Linked DNA regions of Homo sapiens. The protein of the gene in region 1 purifies or fractionates together with the protein of each later gene. This does not show direct contact. Each region holds a gene or a part of one and is shown in the gene's direction. Other genes may lie near its edges.

Evidence for each region.
Region 2: the proteins of DGCR2 (region 1) and TTYH3 purify together in Homo sapiens (affinity purification with mass spectrometry; one large-scale study listed by BioGRID and IntAct). This does not show direct contact.
Region 3: the proteins of DGCR2 (region 1) and HEATR1 purify together in Homo sapiens (co-immunoprecipitation; 2 studies listed by BioGRID and IntAct, with this or other methods). This does not show direct contact.
Region 4: the proteins of DGCR2 (region 1) and TBC1D15 purify together in Homo sapiens (co-immunoprecipitation; 2 studies listed by BioGRID and IntAct, with this or other methods). This does not show direct contact.

Annotation. Positions count from the first base shown.
Region 1 is NC_000022.11:19,111,697-19,116,464, reverse strand, and holds part of DGCR2 (integral membrane protein DGCR2/IDD isoform 1 precursor), read left to right. Parts: intron 1-4,768. UniProt on the Homo sapiens protein: Putative adhesion receptor, that could be involved in cell-cell or cell-matrix interactions required for normal cell differentiation and migration.
Region 2 is NC_000007.14:2,644,546-2,649,313, forward strand, and holds part of TTYH3 (protein tweety homolog 3), read left to right. Parts: intron 1-2,307; coding exon 2,308-2,477; intron 2,478-2,596; coding exon 2,597-2,708; intron 2,709-2,872; coding exon 2,873-3,093; intron 3,094-3,413; coding exon 3,414-3,509; intron 3,510-4,768. UniProt on the Homo sapiens protein: Calcium-independent, swelling-dependent volume-regulated anion channel (VRAC-swell) which plays a pivotal role in the process of regulatory volume decrease (RVD) in the brain through the efflux of anions like chloride and organic osmolytes like glutamate.
Region 3 is NC_000001.11:236,552,189-236,556,956, reverse strand, and holds part of HEATR1 (HEAT repeat-containing protein 1), read left to right. Parts: intron 1-698; coding exon 699-857; intron 858-1,017; coding exon 1,018-1,152; intron 1,153-1,301; coding exon 1,302-1,406; intron 1,407-1,492; coding exon 1,493-1,661; intron 1,662-2,204; coding exon 2,205-2,359; intron 2,360-3,217; coding exon 3,218-3,376; intron 3,377-3,975; exon of another isoform or gene 3,976-4,768. UniProt on the Homo sapiens protein: Ribosome biogenesis factor; required for recruitment of Myc to nucleoli. Involved in nucleolar processing of pre-18S ribosomal RNA. Required for optimal pre-ribosomal RNA transcription by RNA polymerase I.
Region 4 is NC_000012.12:71,915,319-71,920,086, forward strand, and holds part of TBC1D15 (TBC1 domain family member 15), read left to right. Parts: intron 1-2,379; coding exon 2,380-2,479; intron 2,480-3,132; coding exon 3,133-3,230; intron 3,231-4,768. UniProt on the Homo sapiens protein: Acts as a GTPase activating protein for RAB7A. Does not act on RAB4, RAB5 or RAB6.

The DNA of each region.
Region 1 (4,768 bases):
ATGTGATAGCTGTGTAACACCTGTATTTGTGTTTCTGACATGATTTACCAGTTGTCCTGGGAAGTTTAGTCAAAGCCAGTCCATCTCATCCTGCCATTCCAAGCTGTGTGTCCTGTCAGTGTGGACATGGCGGGCTTGGCAGGGCAAGTCTAGGTTGGAGGGTGAATAGCCTGTGGACCCAGATGCCCTGGACCTTCTGGGCATCCTCCTGGGAGATGGGGAAGCTCAGGTCTGGTTTTGCCTCAAATGAGCTGTCTGTAAAAGTAGCAGCTGGGATTAGATCAAGCCTTCTCATCCTGGCCCATGGCAGGCAGTTGGGTATGGTGGCTTAAGAGCATGGGCTCTAGAGCCACACTGCCTAGGCTCAATCTGTTCTACTGCTCACTCTTCAGTTTCCTCATTTGGAACATGGACATCGTAACAGAGCTTTATAGAGATGTTGTGAGGATTAAAATGGGTAAGTATAAAATTCTAAAAAGTGTCTGACATAAAGCAAACTCTTCATCAGGCAAAATGTTAGTGTTAATCACAGATAGAGTTCAGGAACCCTGAACTGAAATGTGAAATGTGAGGTGGTTTGTGCACAGGGCTTATTGGTCGGGAGAGAGCTCCCTCAGGAGGTGGCAGAGTACAGTGGCTCTGAGGAGTGTCTGCCACACAGAGAGTGCTCTTTGCTGTTATGATGGGATCAGAGGGACTGCGTATGACTTGCTGAGAGCCCCCGAAACAGCCATGGTGCTTTGGACAGGGCTGGGATTGTTCATACACGTTTTGCTCTTTGTCACATTCATGCTCTGTCACCTGGGCCTGGTCAGGCACAGACTGGGCACTCAGAAATCAGTTATTGAACAAATGCACAAATGCCTATTTATATTTTGACATAAAGAGCAACAGCTACTTTAGCCAGCAGGCCTTGCAGCTGCCTCTGGTGGGGGTGGCGAGGAGGATGAGAGCCTTGTGGCAGTCCTGCAAAAATGCCTTGGGAGGATGGGATCCGGGGGTAGGGGACATGGCTGTGGAGCCAGCTGGCCTGGGCCCCACCCTGGTAGGAGCTTGCTTCTGTGATGGGAGCTGAGCTGAGAGGTGAGAGCAAGTGTGGCTTCTCATTAATGTGGATCCTCACTGAAGCTCACCAGCTGCCCAGCCTGGGGTGGAGGGTTGAGGGGCTCCCAGAGGGAGGGACCCCAGCAAGCCGGTGCTGAGGGAGCTGCCTCTCTGATGGACTTGCTGGCACCTGGCTTTGAGAACTGGACTGCCCTGTGTGAGGATGTGGCTGGACCTTCCCTGGGTTGTTTGCACAGTGCAGGGCTTGTTTCTGGTCAAGAGCTGGCTGGGTGCATGGGCTGCATGGGCTGCACATGCTTGCCTCTTGGCCTTCTCCTCCTCCTCTGCCTGCGGTAGCTGTTGCTTCAGTCACTCTGAGCTGGTCATTGTTCTTAGTGCCCTTGTCCCCTACAGGTCCCTCCCTGTAGGCTGACTTCTGGCTGACCTCTGGCAAAATGGCAGACAGCTATCAGTTTGGTTAGCTTGTCTTCCTTGGTTAGTCTGTCATCCTTCAGCTGTTGGCTGCTACTGTTGGACAGGACAGTACTGAGGACAGTATTCTGGTGGGTATGGTGGACTAAGGGTCCCCCAGGTAGACCCTGCCCTCTTCCTTGCCTGGGAAGTCTCATTTTCTGGGAAACCTTCCTTAGGAGTTCATAGTTGTGGAGAGGATTGTTTGTGGCTGGCCAGGGCACTGGATGAGGGGCAGGAGTCACAGCAGAGGGACCCAGAAGGTCAACACAGGGATGATCAGCAGGAGACTGACCACAGGACCGGGCCAGATGCTCCATTGAAACTAGGTCTGCTGATGCAGAGGTCTCTCCGGTGCCACTGGCTGCTTCTTAGGGCCTCCAGGTAGATTAGTTTACCTACAGAACTCTGTCTATGGTCTTAGAATAAGAGGACCTGGAAGAGTTAGAGGCTTGTTGGGGGCCATGGCAGGCCTTTGCTGCAGTTCTTGGAGGTTTCTTGGCCACTCCTGACAGTGGGAGCAGCTCTTCGGATTTCCCCATCTACCCTATTTGCGAAGGATGCCTGCTAGACCAGCATGGTAAGCCATGGGGCATGGAGAGAGCCCAAGGGTGTAGAAGATCTTGTCTGGACAATCTAGAAAAAATAAAGTTGATATTTCTTCACATTTGCTAACATTCATACATAGAATATTTTACATAAATGGAATTATATTTTTTATTTAATTTTTGTATTTAACTTATTTTGAGATCTTTGTAGATCAGTGCATATATAACTTCATTCTTTTTTTTTTTTTTCCTTTGGTAACAAAAGATGGAGAGGAAAGGTGGGAATGGGTCGGGGCAAGATTGTCTTAACTCGTTCTTTTTTTTTTTTTTTTTTTTTTTCCTCAAATGGAATCTTGCTTTTGTTGCCCAGGCTGGAGTGCAGTGGTGCAATCTCAGCTCACTGCAACCTCCACTTCCTGGGTTCAAGTGATTATGCTGCCTCAACCTCCCAAGTAGCTGGGATGACAGGCGTCTGCCACCATGCCCGGCTAATTTTTGTATTTTTAGTAGAGATGGGATTTTGCCATGTTGGCTGGGCTGGTCTCAAACTCCCAACCTCAGGTGATCCGTCTGCCTTGGCCTCCCAAAGTGCTGAGATTACAGGCATGAGCCACTGTGCCTGGCCTAACTCATTCTTTTTTAGAAATCTTTTTACTTTGGAAATATTTCAAACCTACATAACAGTAGGTTGACTTGGCAAGTGGAAACCCCTTCACCTGGCCTTTTCAGGATGGGAGCGTGTCGCCTTCTGACATGTTTCCATCAACTTGAAATTCCTTTTTACCAGGCACATCTTGTACCTTACCTGCCCCACACTGGAATGGGGCATTTTCCCACAGAGCGCTGGTTCCTTTTGGTGGGAGATGGTATTTAGAAAGCAGGATTTTGGTGGTAGATGTGTTTATTGCTAGCTACTAGAGTATGCTGCGACTCCATCTTTTCAGTCTAGCCCAAGAGGTGTGTGCATACGTGCATGTGTCTGTGCCTGTGTAAGTTCATACTGTTATTTTTTTTTTTTTATTTTTATTTTTTTGAGACGGAGTCTCGCTCTGTTGCCAGGCTGGAGTGCAGTGGGGTGATCTCGGCTCACTGCAACCTCCGCCTCCCGGGTTCAAGCGATTCTTCTGCCTCAGCCTCCCAAGTAGCTGGAACTACAGGCATGCGCCACCACACCTGGCTAATTTTTGTATTTTTAGTAAAGATGGGGTTTCACCATGTTGGCCAGGATGGTCTCGATCTCTTGACCTCATGATCTGCCTACCTCCACCTCCCAAAGTGCTGGTATTACAGCCGTGAGCCACTGTGCCTGGCCCATACTGTTTCTTTAGTTCTAATCCAGCGTTCCAGGTTCTTGCTTGCTTTCTCTGTTGCATGTTTGTTTCTCTCTTTTTCTACAGTGAGAACCCTGGCTCCCAACAGCATCAGTAGGTTTACTCATTTGCTTAGTCTTACACTGCACCCAGAATAGTTTCAGAAGTACTGCATTCGCACCACTAGTAACAGCAGACCTATTAAGTAGAATTTAATTTAATTTAATTTTTTTTAGCTCTTTGTGTTTTCAGATTGATGGTGTATACTCAAGGTTCTTGGGTTCAAAAGCTACTTGGATTAATTCTCTTCTCTCTTCCATGTGATTGTTACACAGTTAGGTTCAAAACTGTGTTGAGGCAGGGCCGGGTGGTTCACACCTGAAATTCCAGCACTTTGGGAGGCTGAGGTGGGTGGATTGCTTGAGCCCAGAAGTTCTAAACCAGCCTGGGCAATATGGCATCTCTGCAAAAACTACAAAAATTAGCTGGGCATGATGGCACACGCCTGTAGTCCCAGCTACTTGGAGGGGACTGAGGTGGGAGGATCGTTTGAGCCCAGTGAGCAGAGGTTATGGTGAGCTGAGATCATGCCTCTGCACTCCAGCCTAGGCAACAGAGCAAGACCTGCCTCAAAAACCAAAACCAAAAAAAAAACCTGTTTTGATTTGAAACCATGTTTATTAAATAATATTGAGAGTGGTATTTACTGTAACCTCAGTATTTATAACAAGCCCCTCTTTCATTACACTAATTGGTAAGGAAGCATCTCAATTTTGAACGGTTTTATTATTTTCCTAGGTTTTTTTTTTTTTTTTTTAAAAGATGGAGTCTTGCTGTGTCACCTAGGCTGGAGTGCAGTGGTGCGACCTCGGCTCACTGTAACCTCTGCCTCCCGGGTTCAAGCGATTCTCCTGCCTCAGCCTCCCCAGTAGCTGGGACTACAGGTGCGTGCCACCACGCCCAGATAATTTTTGTATTTTTAGTGGAGATGGGGTTTCGCCATGATGGCCAGGCTGGTCTTGAACTCCTGACCTCAGGTGATCCACCCGCCTGCATCTCTGAAAGTGCTGGGATTATAGGCATGAGCCATCATGCTCAGCCAATAAATAGATATTTTAAAAATAATTATTTTTCATTTCTGACAGTCCTGAGCCTTCGTTGATGTACTTTTGTCAAAACTCTTGGTAAATCACTTTTTAAGTTTCAGTTTCTTCCTGGAGACAAAAAAAAATAAATAAATAAAAAATAAAAACAAAAAAGAGTTTAGATGTTCAAGGGCTATTTGGGCCCAAGTGCTGACATTGTGAGCTTGTTGGTTTAACAGGGTCTCATTCCACCAGCCATCACCCTTTGTGTTTCCTCTCCATCCGATAGCTTGGGTTCGTGCTCTGATAG
Region 2 (4,768 bases), on another chromosome or scaffold:
AGTGGCTCTGGTGCCAGCCCTGGGTCCTGCCCCTGGAGGGTGGGGGTGCAGGGCCCAGCAGTCCTCCTGCCATTGCAGGGGCGGTAGGCACTTGTGCATGGCTGAAGGAGTGGGAGGGTGCCCGCCCCTGATGCTCTGCAGTGCCCAGATTGCTGGCTGCTGGGCAGCCGTGGACACACCGGTGTGGCTTTGGACCATGGCGGCTCATTTCTGGGTGTGCCGGGCTGGTCAGCACCTCCCTGGCTGGGTGGAGGTGGAAAGGCCGCCTTCGGGTGTGGACGTCGGCCGGCTTCCTGGAGGGCAGGACACGGCATCCTCCCACTGCCTGGCAACCGTCTCCTGGGAGATCCAGCAGCAATCCCATTGCCCACTGTGGCTGAGCCTCTCATCCCAAGGGGGGGCCAGGCAGGGGACCATCTGCCCCAGCAGCTCCCAAGGCTGGGGTCCCAAGAGGGCCACACTGCTGAAGCATTGAGATGTGGGGAGAGAGGCGTTTCTCTGCAGTAGTGCCAATGAGGGCAGCGCAGGTGTGCCTGGTGGCCACCCCACAACACTGAGGGCCCCAGCTGCTGACACCCCCCAGGGCACCCCCAAGTTAGCCTCTAGGTGGTCCCTGGCCCCATGATGAGGCGCAGCCCTGTATCAGCTCCCCATCCCTCCCCCGGCACAGGAAGTGTGTGGAGGTTCTGGAGGGCTGAGCCGGGGGCAGGGCTATGCTGAATCCAGGGACCTGGGGTTGCAGGGCCTGTGTGCTTTCTCTGTAGCTTCTATGAAGCCCAGTTTCCCTGTGGATGAAATGGGGTGAGAGCACTCGGCCAGGCAGATCGAATGCAGTGCCAGGAGAAGGGACAGCTCTGGGGCCACGTTACCCTCCCTCCCCGCAGCGGGTGCTGAGGAAATGTCACTGTTGCATCAAATTAGCCACTTCCTGTGGGGGTCGCCTGGCCTCGGGACAGGGGAGCTCTGGTGTCTGTTCTGTGGTCTGTCTTTTGTGTTCAGAGACCTGGGGAGAGCCACACTGGAAGGCCGTGCTTGGAGCCAGACAGGGCTGTGTGTCCGATGGGGCGCCTGTATGCAGCCTGTAGCAGTGTGGGGCCAGCCCCACCATCTCATCCAGCGTGGGGGCACGCCATGGACGGTGCCCACCCCTGAGTGCAGCTTCTCGGTGCACAGACCCCAGACAGGATCAGACTCCTGATGGGGCCTCTTCCATGTTCACCCCTCAGAAACACTTTCATGGTCAGCAAGAGGGGGTTCAGTCCCCCACAGGCTCCCAATTTCCCTACCAGACCTGAAAACCTCAGGACTACAGCTGGGGTGGGGGATCCTGCCAGGACTCAGGTAGGAGAGTTCTGGGCCTGAGACGGGGACGGGCTCTGGGGTCCTGGGGCTGTCTCGGGCTGGGGGTGAGGACAGTAGCTGATGCCGGCAGCCCCCTCCCCAGGGCTTCGCTTCTTCGGGGGAGCAGCAGCACTTTTTTTTTTTTTAGACAGTGTCTCGCTCTTGTCGCCCAGGCTGGAGTGCAGTGGTGCAATCTCGGCTCACTGCAACCTCCGCCACCCGGGTTCAAGTGATCCTCCTGCCTCAGCCTCCTGAGTAGCTGGGATTACAGGCACCCGCCACCAGGCCTGGCTAATTTTTGTACTTTTAGTAGAGATGGGGTTTCGCCACGTTGGCCAGGCTGGTCTCAAACTCCTGACCTCAGGTGATCCGCCCGCCTCGGCCTCCCAAAGTGCTGGGATTACAGGCGTGAGCCACCCTGCCCTGCTCAGCAGCACTTCTTTCTACAGAAGATAAACCAGGCTCGGAGAGGTGGAGGGACCTCCCTAGTGGGGCTGTGGCTGCAAAGATGGTGGCTCACCAGCAGCGTCCTCGTTTGTCACCCACATTCTCTGGCTACCTCCATCCAGCGCCTCTCCTTGGGGCCTGGTGGGGCAGACGTCCTGAGCACCTGCCCTGGACTCTGGGGACCCGGTGGGGAGGGGACATGTGCCCTTGCTGGAGCCACAGAAGCCTGGAGTCGGTTCACCCGGCCCCTCCTAGTGGCTATGGAGTCTTCATGCTGTGCAGCCTTGAGGATGGCGAGACCGGGGTCCCAGGTGTGGGGTCCAGGCCTGGGTGACCCCAGGTGCATCACTGAGGTGGTGGGAGACTCCATGCCTCACCTACAAGTCGGGGATGGGGCCCACCTCCCAGGGCTGGGGGCAGGATTAAATGGGAGTCTGCGCCAGGTCCCCTGCTGGGGCGGGGCGTGGGACTCTGAGCTGGGGGTCCACCCCTCCAGCGCCGCTTCCTGCCTGCCCTCAGGCCCTGCTGCTCCTGGGGGCCGCCGCCCTGGCCTGCCTCGCCCTGGACCTCCTCTTCCTGCTCTTCTACTCCTTCTGGCTGTGCTGCCGGCGGCGCAAGAGCGAGGAGCACCTGGACGCCGACTGCTGCTGCACGGCCTGGTGTGTCATCATCGCCACGCTGGTGTGCAGGTGAGCGCGGTGGGGCGGGGACGGAGGGCGGGGCCAGAGGGGGCGGCCCGAGGGGGCGGGGCTGGAGTGGGGTGTGTGTGGGTGGGCGGGGCTACATCTCACGGGCCCGCCCTCTCCAGCGCCGGCATCGCAGTGGGATTCTACGGCAACGGGGAGACCAGTGATGGCATCCATAGGGCCACCTACTCGCTCCGCCACGCCAACCGCACGGTGGCCGGGGTCCAGGACCGCGTGAGTGGCCGCGGAGTTGGGGCCAGGAGCACTCTTGCTGCTCCGGAGCCCCACGTCTGCGCGAGGACGGGCGGGGCAGCCGGGACTGGGGCTGTGCAGGAGGGGCCCAGACTCTGGGGCGAGGCGGGCGCGCTCCCAGCCTCACGCCCGCGGGTCCGGCGCAGGTGTGGGACACGGCGGTGGGGCTGAACCACACGGCGGAGCCCAGCCTGCAGACCCTGGAGCGGCAGCTGGCCGGGCGGCCCGAGCCCCTGCGAGCCGTACAGAGGCTGCAGGGCCTGCTGGAGACGCTGCTGGGCTACACGGCCGCCATCCCCTTTTGGAGGAACACGGCGGTGTCGCTGGAGGTGCTGGCGGAGCAGGTGGATCTCTACGACTGGTACAGGTGCGGCCAGGCCCTCTTCCCTGCCCGCCCCACGTGGGAAAGCATCACCCTCCTTGGGCCAATTTTTGCTCTCAGCACCTAGTACATGAGGCCTGATGGGCAGGGTGTGGCCCAGGGCCACTGGAGGTCACAGGCAGTGGCTGGAGTTCCCCTAATGGGAGCCTTTCTCAAGAACTGACACCAGTCCCCATGACCCAGACGCTCTGAATGCCCTCTGGGGTGCCAGGCTGCTGGCCTCAGCTCCCCCTCAAGGGCCCCTGGCGCCCCACTCCCAGGCCCCGGGTCCCTGTGCCCTGGCGCACTCCCAGGTTTGCCTGCAGGTGGCTGGGCTACCTGGGCCTGCTGCTGCTGGACGTCATCATCTGCCTCCTGGTGCTGGTTGGCCTCATCCGCAGCTCCAAGGGCATCCTGGTGGGGTGAGTCTGGGGGTGTCGGCCCCCCGTGGGCCCAAAGCGGAGGGGCAGGGCAAGGCACCATGTTACCCCTTCCCCCACCTCATCTGCAGATCCTAGCCACAAGCTCTGCGGTGGGGGCTGAGCGGGACCCCCCTGCACTGGGCCTGCTCTGAGATGCCCCTTCTGTGCCTGTGGCCTGTGCCCCTGTGGCCAGCATCCCAGCACACTTGCCCCCAGCCCTTGATTTCCTGCAAGAGTCTGCACGTGGGGCACTTGTAGCCCAGGACCTGAAGCAACCTGCCCAGGTCTCCGAGTGCCTGGGGCCACCCAGAGACCAGGCTGGGGCTCCTTCCTCCACCCCTTCCATCCTTGGCCCTGGGGCAGCCTGGGTTCCAGCCCCAGCTCCGGCTCACTAGGAGGGTGACCTTGGGCAGGTGGCTTATTGTTGCTGGGCCTTGGTCTCCTCGTTTGGAAGGCAGAGAGAGCGGCAGCTCCTCTGTGGGAGGTAAGGTGTTGTCACTGCCCTTCACCACGCAGCTGCACAGCCATGGCTGGTGCCTCCCTGGGCCAGGCCTGGGAGAGATGGGAGAACACACAGCCTCCCCCCACGTGGCACTCACAGGCCACAGAGGAGCAGAATGAGGGAAACGTGGCATGGGCCAGAGGTGATAGCACCCTGGAGAGGAAAAGCCGGGGTGGTGTGAAGGCCTGCAGTAGGGTGGTGGGGGGGGGTGCAGCTTCACGCTGTGCCCAAGGAGACCTGAGCGAGGAGGGATTGAGCAGGGGCCCAAGGGAGTAAGGGACGCCTGGACAGACAGGAAGGATGACAGTGTGCAGTGGGTTGTGGGGTCCTCAGTGGGGTGTGCAGGCCTGCAGTGGGGTGTGGGGCCCGCAGTGGGGTGTGGGGCCCGCAGTGGGGTGTGGGGCCCGCAGTGGGGTGTGGGGCCTGCACTGGGGTGTGTTTTGGGGATCTGAACTGGGATATGGGGGACTCGTGGTGGGGGCACCTGCAGTGGGGTATGCACAGGAGGCCTGTGTATCTGGATCAAAGGGAGCCAGATGTGGGTGAGGTGAGGCCTCAGATGAGGGAGAGGCCAGTGCCGTAGCAAGAGCTCTGAGTCCCCAGTTGCTGAGCGAGGGTTCAGCACAGGAGGGCTTGATCTAGCTGACGTTATCAGGCCCCTTGGGCTGCTACGTGGGCGGCGGGATGCGGGGACCCACGTGAAAGTGGACACTGTTGCCTGTTCAGGAGAGGGACCTGGGGGACAGGAGGGGCGGGG
Region 3 (4,768 bases), on another chromosome or scaffold:
ATTGTGCGGAATGTATTCTGGCTTTTTTTTCTTCTGTGAGATCTTTGGAGTTGGGCTGGTAGAGCCGCCTTTTATTACTTGTGGAAATTGATGGGCCCTGTTTCTACTGTGAGAGGTATAATCCTAAGGCATCTTGCAAAGCAGAATTTTTGTATTGCACGTCAGCGGTTTCCTGTCAACACGCTAGGGGCCAGTGGTATTTATGATTGAAGATGCTCAAGAATGTTGAGACCTGGCTGTTCCATTGTGTTGATCATTTGCCATTTACAAGGTTAGGAGCCTTCATTACCATGGGGCAAATGATTAAACCGCTTCACTTACACCACAGCCAGGGTTTAAAAGTAGCCTTCTCAGAGAAAGGGGCCTGTGCTCTGAGGAGCTTTCTCAGTTTTTTAGCAACTTGACTCTTGCCGTGGTCCCTTGCATTCCTGTCCTCTAAGAAAATCATCTGTCTGGGTGCTGTGTGTGCGTCTGCGTCTACCATCGGCCTTCGTCCCTGATCGCAAGTTGGGCAAGAGGTGTCTGCCCAGTTTTATCCACTGACGTTTAGGGCTGACTTTAAAAGGAATTCTGTGTGTAGTTAAAAAGTGCTAAGCATTTTCCAAACACTAGTACCTCATCATGAAGCCTCTCTGTAAGTGTGTGTTTGTCAGCGAAGATCTGCAGTGGCCCTGATCACTTTTTTTATATTCCTGTAGGTGATTCATCTGGAGAAAATCACTAGTGAAATGGGTTCTGCGTCACAGGCTAATATCCGTCTCACATCTCTTAAAAAGACACTGGCTACCACACTTGCACCCCGAGTCCTGTTGCCCGCCATCAAAAAAACTTACAAGCAGATTGAGAAGAACTGGAAGGTTAGATCTTATTGGGTATTAAGACTTTGGAGAAGGGAGAGGTGGTACTGCAATGTGTAAACTTTGACTTAAAGAAGAAGATTTAGTTTTTAAAAATACACACCGCTGAACTCTAGGAATCATTTGAAAATGGCACATCTCTTTCCTGTGTTATTGGTAGAATCACATGGGTCCGTTTATGAGCATCTTGCAAGAGCATATTGGGGTGATGAAGAAGGAAGAGCTCACCTCCCATCAGTCTCAGCTAACCGCCTTTTTCCTGGAAGCCCTGGACTTCCGAGCCCAGCACTCTGAGGTAAGCTCAGGTTCACTCCTCCAAATCCTAAAGCTGTTATCCACCTATTGAAGAGTCCGAGAACAATCTAGCCGTGTAACAGTGGTACTTGCCAAAATAATTTACAGTCAGGTATCAGCACTCTAATAAATGGGCTCTTCTGTTTTCAGAACGATCTGGAGGAAGTTGGAAAAACGGAAAATTGTATCATTGACTGTCTAGTAGCCATGGTTGTCAAACTTTCCGAGGTCACATTCAGGCCCCTGTTCTTCAAGGTGACGCTTTCTTCCTCTTCCTCTCTTTTGTGCTCAGATTTAAGTGACAAGATGTCGAAGAAACTAATACTGTCTTATCCTTTCAGCTGTTTGATTGGGCTAAAACAGAAGATGCCCCAAAGGACAGGTTGTTGACATTTTACAACTTGGCAGATTGCATTGCTGAAAAGCTGAAAGGGCTTTTTACTCTGTTTGCCGGCCACTTAGTGAAGCCTTTTGCTGACACCTTGAACCAGGTGAACATCTCCAAAACAGGTGGGTGGTCGCTTCAGTTCAGCTGTCACCCTTGCCCTGTGTGCCTTATACAAGGTACCAGTAAGACACAACCTAGTGCTTGGAAGCAAGATTTTAGAGGTTCTTAAGTCCTAAGCTAAGGAGGGTGAATTTTTTACTTCATTGTTGTCAGACAGTGAAGTGTTGTTTTAGCATCATGAGCGAATGTTATAAGTCACCTCACTTGGGAGAAAGAATAAAGTAAATGGCCGTTACTGTCAGTTACTGGAAGTAACTTTAAAACGCAAAAATTAAGATTAGTTTATTCTCTAATGCTAATACGTGACCCACTTGACAGTTGAGGGAATTTAACTTGCCAGAGTGAGTGTTAGAATCTTAACTCTAAAAGAAGGAATCATTCTTCGAGAGACCATCCATTGTGTTCTGCCTTCGTCCTGATTATGATTTCTAGATCATTTTAGACTCTTCTGATTTAGTTATTTTAATAGTGATTTCAATGTAAACATTGGAGATTAAATGGTTAAGTTCAGTGTTTTTTCATTTTTACTCTTCCCACGTCTACAGATGAAGCATTTTTTGACTCTGAAAATGACCCTGAAAAGTGCTGCTTGCTGTTGCAGTTTATTTTGAACTGTTTATACAAAATCTTCCTTTTTGATACCCAGCATTTTATAAGTAAAGAGAGAGCAGAAGCCTTGATGATGCCTCTGGTGGATCAGGTAACCAAACAGAATCATCTTTCGTTGCTGAGGAAGCCATCACTGTTCGAGCTTGGCAGGTTTTAGATCTGCTCAAATGACAGCTTGCTAGGATTTTTCTTTGTAAGGTTGTTTTTTCTGGTCTTTTTAATGAAATGTTTTATTTGAAAATTGTTTTTTCAAAGATATAACTTCATTGTGGAATTTGAGTTTTGTTTTGTTGTTTTGAGACAGGGTCTTGCTCTGTCACCCAGGCTGGAGTGCAGTGGTGCAATCTCGGCTCGCTGCAACCTCCACCTCCCGGTTTCAAGCAATTCTTGTGCCTCAGCCTCCCGAATAGCTGGGATCACAGGCGCCCGCCTCCACACCTGGCTAATTTTTGTATTTTTAGTAGGGATGAGGTTTTGCCATGTTGGCCAGGCTGGTCTCGAACTCCTGACCTCAAGTGATCCACCCACCTTGGCCTCCCAAACTGCTGGGATTACAGGCGTGAGCCACCATGCCTGGCCCTGAGTTATTTTTTATTTTTTATTTTTTAAACTGCTCAAAAGACAGACATGATATAAGCTGTCATGGTTAATGTATTCATTTGTTTTAACTGGGCCTCACTGAGAACGCGTCAGAGCATGGCTGTCCTCTGGAGCAAAGAGCTCCTCTGAGATGTTCTGCTGGAGAGAAAGGGGCGATGATAAAGGGTATGAGATTCCATTTGAGTTCTAGAAGGCAATACATTTGCCCTAGAGAGTATTAGAATAATGCCTGGTTTTTGAACCTGCTAATATCATGAAAGATAGTAAAATATTTGTATGTTGGATATTTTTTCAAACAGAAGAAAGAAATGAGACTTGTTGTTCAAAGTCTTTGTCTTACTCTTCCTAGCTGGAAAACAGGCTTGGGGGAGAAGAGAAATTCCAGGAACGGGTGACAAAGCACCTGATACCATGCATCGCACAGTTTTCGGTGGCCATGGCGGATGACTCTCTTTGGAAACCACTGAACTACCAGATTCTGCTAAAGACGAGAGACTCCTCGCCTAAGGTTAGGAACTGCGTGACAAGTACTGAAACTGCATCTTTTCACTGCATAGCCTAAACAGCCTGCAGGTGGTCACAGATGTAGGCCCCCTAGTAAACTGGCAGGGAAGAACATTGCTATTTGTCATCCAGTACTAGAGGTCCGGTCTTTTGTATTAGGCAGAAATTTGTGCCTAAGAAAATTTTGTTTTTTACTTACAGGCTATTTGTAAAGAATAGCAATGCCCTATCCCCACCCCAATGGTGCGTTGGGCAGAAGTACTAAAATACTTTCTAAATACTTTTAAATAACAAAGATTTGAAGTAATTCCTTCTTTTTTAAGTGCCATTGAAATGTCATTGTGCTCCAGAGAGAAATGCATTGAATTTATCCACACTATAGTCTTTTGAGTTAGAGCAATACATTCTGTTGTTTATAGATACTAGGCTTATGATCTTGTTGAGTAAGTGGTGGCAGTGGAAATAAAACATGGGTAGGTTGAGTGGAAGTCAAAATTTGACACCCAAGTGTTACGAATTTCAAACTGTTTTAGCAATGAGTCACCATTTCTCAAACTAATGATTGTATTAGAACTTTACTGGCTATAACAGACCAAAGCAGAATTTTATTAATAGGATTTATTAGTTCAAATTCTTTATTAGGATATGCTAACAATGAGACTATTATGATGAACCCCCACATTTTAAACCATAGGTTTTTATACAAGTAGCAGTATCAAATTTATTGTAATATTTTACTTTGCACAAATCAAGGAAATCCTGATTGAATCTAGGTAGTTACAAATGGTTTTTTAATAATTCACTTTGTACTGTCCAGATATTCTTTAATTAAAATATCCAAAATTAGAAGACCAGTAGGGCTTTTGTTTCAAAAGCTAACAATACCCAACTACTGCTTGCTTTCCTTATTATAGACAAGGCATGTGAGGAACACCTAGACGTTTTTAAAGCCCCAAAACTAGGATATTGTGACACAGAATGTTTTTTATTCAGTGCTGAGATGGGAGTTTATCCCAAGCGACTGTCCTGGCCCCTCATACAATTATAGTGGTGACCAGTCAGGGGCTGTGGGTGAGGAGACCTGCCAGAGGTGGCTGGAGGCACTTTATTGCCAGCCTGGCGGGCTGGCGAGCGCCAATGAAGTAAAATCTGGTGACACACTTGAGTTTGCATGCGGCATTTTATTTTATTGGTTTTTTTTAAAGGAAGAGATTATAAAAAGACATTTCACATTAAAGATTTGCAGTCCTGGGACACAGTTTGGAAAACACTATTTATAAGGTTGCACATATTACAAACAGCTCCCAAATGGTGAAACTGGTATTCTAAGATGAAAGCTTAATGAACATAATGAAGTGAATAAACGCATGTGAACTAATGTTTAAAAAGTTAGAGC
Region 4 (4,768 bases), on another chromosome or scaffold:
TATCTTGTTTCACTGGTAGCATACCAGAATTTTCCTAATGCCTGACATGAGGTTGTTCAACGGGTTTTTGTAGAATAAACATGTGAATCTTTCCCCAGTGATTAGTTTAAATTGCTATAGTAGATATTCTAAAAAAAAAAAAAAAAACACAACTAAGATGAACATACTGCATTTAGTATCATGCAATAAGTTTTCAATAAAACTAATCCAATATTGGCATGTAAATATATATTGACATATAATGCCACATACACACATGCATACAGACGTGTGTATATAGGTCTCATATGTAAAGACTACCTTCTGAACATGTGTAATAAACACTTTACAGTCCGTCATTTTTTGTGTATGAAGGTTCAGTTTCTTTGTTCTGTCATTTTCACAGTAAATGCTCTCTGTGTTTGCCTTTTCCATTAAGGATGTTCTGGGGATTTTTCTAGTCTTTATTCTAAAAAAGATATCTTATGATTATGTTGTCTGCTAACATCTTTTCTTTCATAATATTTGAATGAGAGGGAAATATATGGCAATCAAAATAACCTGTATGATTGTTTTTCACTGCATTGCCCTTGTTTGATGTCCCTAAATCTGTGCTGCTGTTTCTTGATTCTGTGTTTCTGTTTTATAGCTTTACTTCATGTAAGTTTGTACTACCTTTGTGGTGGCTGAACCTAACGTCTGTAAATTTACTTTTGTTGATGTTTACTTGCATCTAATGTAGGTCTAGGCATAGACTTTGTCTATTATCATGGAAATACAAAGTACAAGTGATCTGATGAACTTTGTTATACCCATCATCCATTTTGCCATATAGTTTTAATTCCTTTCTCCTCTCCATCTCCCCCTCCCCTGCCCCATACAGACACATTTATTTACAGACACATTTGAAGCCCTTTGTATATCCATTGTTGATCCCACTCTCCCTTCTCCAGGAGTAACCACTTTTTCGAATATGGTGTCTGTCATTATGGACATGTTTCTTTTTTACAGCAGAGTGGGTAGCAAATGTCTATGCCATGTTGGTATTCCCAGATCAGCTCTAGTCTTTGACTGTGTCACAGCAAAAATGATCCTGTTAATCAGAGTTGATTCTGCCCCTTCTCTATAGATCTCTCTGGTAAATGTGGAGGAACTATATCCTAAAGCCTTGAGTTAGTCTATTAATAAACTGGTTTTTAAAATTCATTAAAGAGAAACAGCTTATTGAGAATTAATAGACTTAAATTTTTTTTAAGAATGAATTGTTTCTAATATGATAGTTCTAATAAAGCACTATTGTACTGTAAAAGTGAAAAAGTAAGTGTGAAGGAGGAAATGTTTTTCTAAGGCTTTCACTAGGGTTAGGGCGGTAGGTTACCACAGAGGGATCGGGACATATGAGTTAAAGGGATCCAAATCATTTAAGAAGCCTTTCAGAGCATCAGTTTTGGTGCCTTCTGGCCCCTTGACTCAGGTGTTGGTAGGGAGTCTACTCAACTATGAAGTTTCTTTAAAGCATATGAACCCCAGCAGTTCCCAAACTTTGTGACCTCAGGGCCCCTTCACACTCTCCAATATTATTGAAGACCTGAAAGAGTTTTTGTTTATGTGGGTTATATCTGTTGATGTTTATGTGAAAAATTAATACTGAGAAACTTGTATTCATTTATTTATTAATTCATTAAATAACAACACATTCTACCTTAACATAGATCACTTTTTTTTAATGAAAAGTAACCTTTCCTAATGAAAAATTTACCGACACAAGAGATTGTTTTAAATTTTTCATTTTTAAAAATGTCTGGTTTAATAGAAGACAGCTGAATTTTCATATTTGCTTCTGTGTTCAGTCTTTTGGAGTATCACACATCATACAGCCTTTGCACTTGTGAAAGAATTTAAGTATGAAATCCAGATAATGTTTTAGTATTGTCCTGAAAATGGTTTTGGCTTTACAGATTCTCCAATGTAAAGTAATTCTTTAAAATGAAATACATACTAAAACTAAAATTAATTTTATTATGTATAATTTGAAGGAATATTTAACAATGGAAAGAATTTGATAAATATTTATTTCCCAAATGTGTGTTTCTTTCACCAAGTCTTTTATGCTGTGTAAGAAATAAATAGTCAGTCTGCAGTTGCTATGTCTGCATTCTTCTTTATCTAAGTCAAATGAATAGAGGAAAAAATAATCCTTAGTTTTGAGAGCAAGGATTCTTTCTCTTTACCCTCCCTTTTAGTGTTACGTTAGATTTTTGGTTAGTTACGCATTTTTTAAGATTACCAGTGTGGTATAAGTTCAGCATTTGTCCTTAGACATCATGTTTTAGTTATCAGTCATTATGTACTATAAAATATTTATTAAATATTACTTGTAACAATTATTTCCTTTTAAAGCATCAGAATTTTGAAGAACAAATGCAAGGCATGAAGACCCAGCTAATTCAGCTGAGTACCTTACTTCGATTGTTAGACAGTGGATTTTGCAGTTACTTAGGTAAGTTTAGTGAATCAGAACTATACCCAGCAAATTGTAGAGTAATGCATAGAAAAAAATGTAAAGAACTCTTTAAAGAAGCCAGGTGCAGTGGCTCATGCCTATAATCCCAGCACTTTGGAAGCCAAGGAGGGAGGATTACTTGCACCCAGGAGTTTGAGACTAGCCTGGCTAGCACAGTGAGACCCCATCTCTACAAGGAAAAAAAAATGCTGGCTGTGGTGATGCATGCCTGTAGTCCCAGCCACTCAAGAGGCTGAGGTGGGAGGATTACTTGAGCCGAGGAGGTTGAGGCTACAGTGAACTGGGATCACTCCACTGCACTCCGACCTGGGTGACATAGCAAGACACTGTCTCAATAAAAAAGAACTTAAAGACATATATACTCTATTGCACTTTCTTCGGTTCCATAAAAATGTGGAACCAAACTCTCTTTGTATAATTCTGCCTTAAACTTGATTCGTAAAATGTATTATTTGTTAGTTTTTAAAAAGAAGTCAGCCTTCAAGTTTGAAATGATTCCTTAACGTAGAAGACAAATGTATAGGGCCTTGAATTGCCTAAGATGCATAGGAAAGTTAGAGAAAAGTAACTGTATTCTGACATAATTAGCATAAGAGTAAGTCATATGTGTGTTTTTTTCTTCTGCATAGAATCTCAGGACTCTGGATACCTTTATTTTTGCTTCAGGTGGCTTTTAATCAGATTCAAAAGGGAATTTAGTTTTCTAGATATTCTTCGATTATGGGAGGTAAGTCCTTAAATTATTATGCAAATGTGATATTTATTATGAAAAGAAACAATTTATTCTGTAGAGTGTAAATGAATTATGATAGCCTTACTGAAATATCTAAGGCAAGTATGTTCCAAAATTCTGATGAACTGGTAGCCTCTTCTTAAAAATTAGTTTCACACTGAATATTTGGTCTTTTGGAGCTTCGTTCTTCAAATCACAATCTCTGTGAGATTTGGGGCCAAGAGGTATCCCAGAACAAGTGCTCTAGACCATTTGCTGCCTTTGTTCTTCCTTTGTGAGACTTGACTTTATGTGAGGCTTTGCCACATCTGTTATAGAGGATATTCTTATGTTTTTGGTGTACTCCTTTTGTTCCATTTTTTACCCAAGGCAACTCTTTATTTTTTCAACTTTTATTTTAGGTTCAGGGAGTACATGTGCAGGTTTGTTACATAGGTAAATTGCATGTTGCTGAGGTTTGGTGTGTGAATGATTCCATCACCCAGGTAGTGAGCATAGTACCCAATAGGTAATTTTACATCCCATGTTTCCCTTACACCATCCCCCCATGTGTAATCCCCAGTGTTTATTTTTCCATGGCAACCTTTAATGAAAAACCAAATCATTTCACATTTTCTAAAGTATTTGCTAATAATAAATCAGTGTGCTTTTTTTTTTTTTTTTTTTAAAGAGAAGGGGTCTTGCTATGTTACCTAGACTGATCTCGAACTCCTGGACTCAAGTAATCCTCTTGCCTCAGCTTTATAAGTAGCTGGGACTACAGGTCTACAGGTGTATGCCACTGTGTCCAGCCCAGTGTGCTTGTTCATAGAATGCTGGTATAATGATTGATCATACCTTAGGATAACAGAAATTCTTCCAAGGAAAGAATTGGGAGATAATCCATTTTGATTGTAAATCCAACTTTATACAGTGGAACTCTAGTGGTCTCTGAGGTTTTTACAGCTGGAAATGGATTCCTATACTATTGATGGCTGTGCTACCATTAGACAAGGCATTGTGCTGATTACAAGTTAAAAGTGGATTACTTTATGCTCACTTCCTCTGTTCTCAGATTAGAAGTAAAACCCACATGGTCTCTATCTGGAATCGTACTTAAATGTTTATCAGTTTTGTTAAATTAGTGTCTTAATTTGGGGGTTAAAAATGGGTTAATGTATTTATGCCTAGTGTTCCATTATTGGAACGCTAAGCATGTGGGAGTTGTTTATATCCTACTGCTCAAGGTCATCACCAAGGTCTGATTGAAAAATTCAAAAAATTGCATCCTCAGGCATAAATGGGTTTTAAAGGATGAATTAAGAATATTATTACCACATAGCTAGAATAACTCCTCAATCTGTGTTTACTAAATAAATTCAAACTTTTAATGAAACCTTTGAGGTTAATTGCATTGTAATTAAACTTTCAACAATTGGGTTTAGTTTGAAAATTATTCAACTTGATTTACTCCTTTTGAAAGAAGTAAACACATTTCGGGTATGATCTCATGGTATGGTTTGTGTGGGTGTTTTTATCTTTGTGGAAAATAT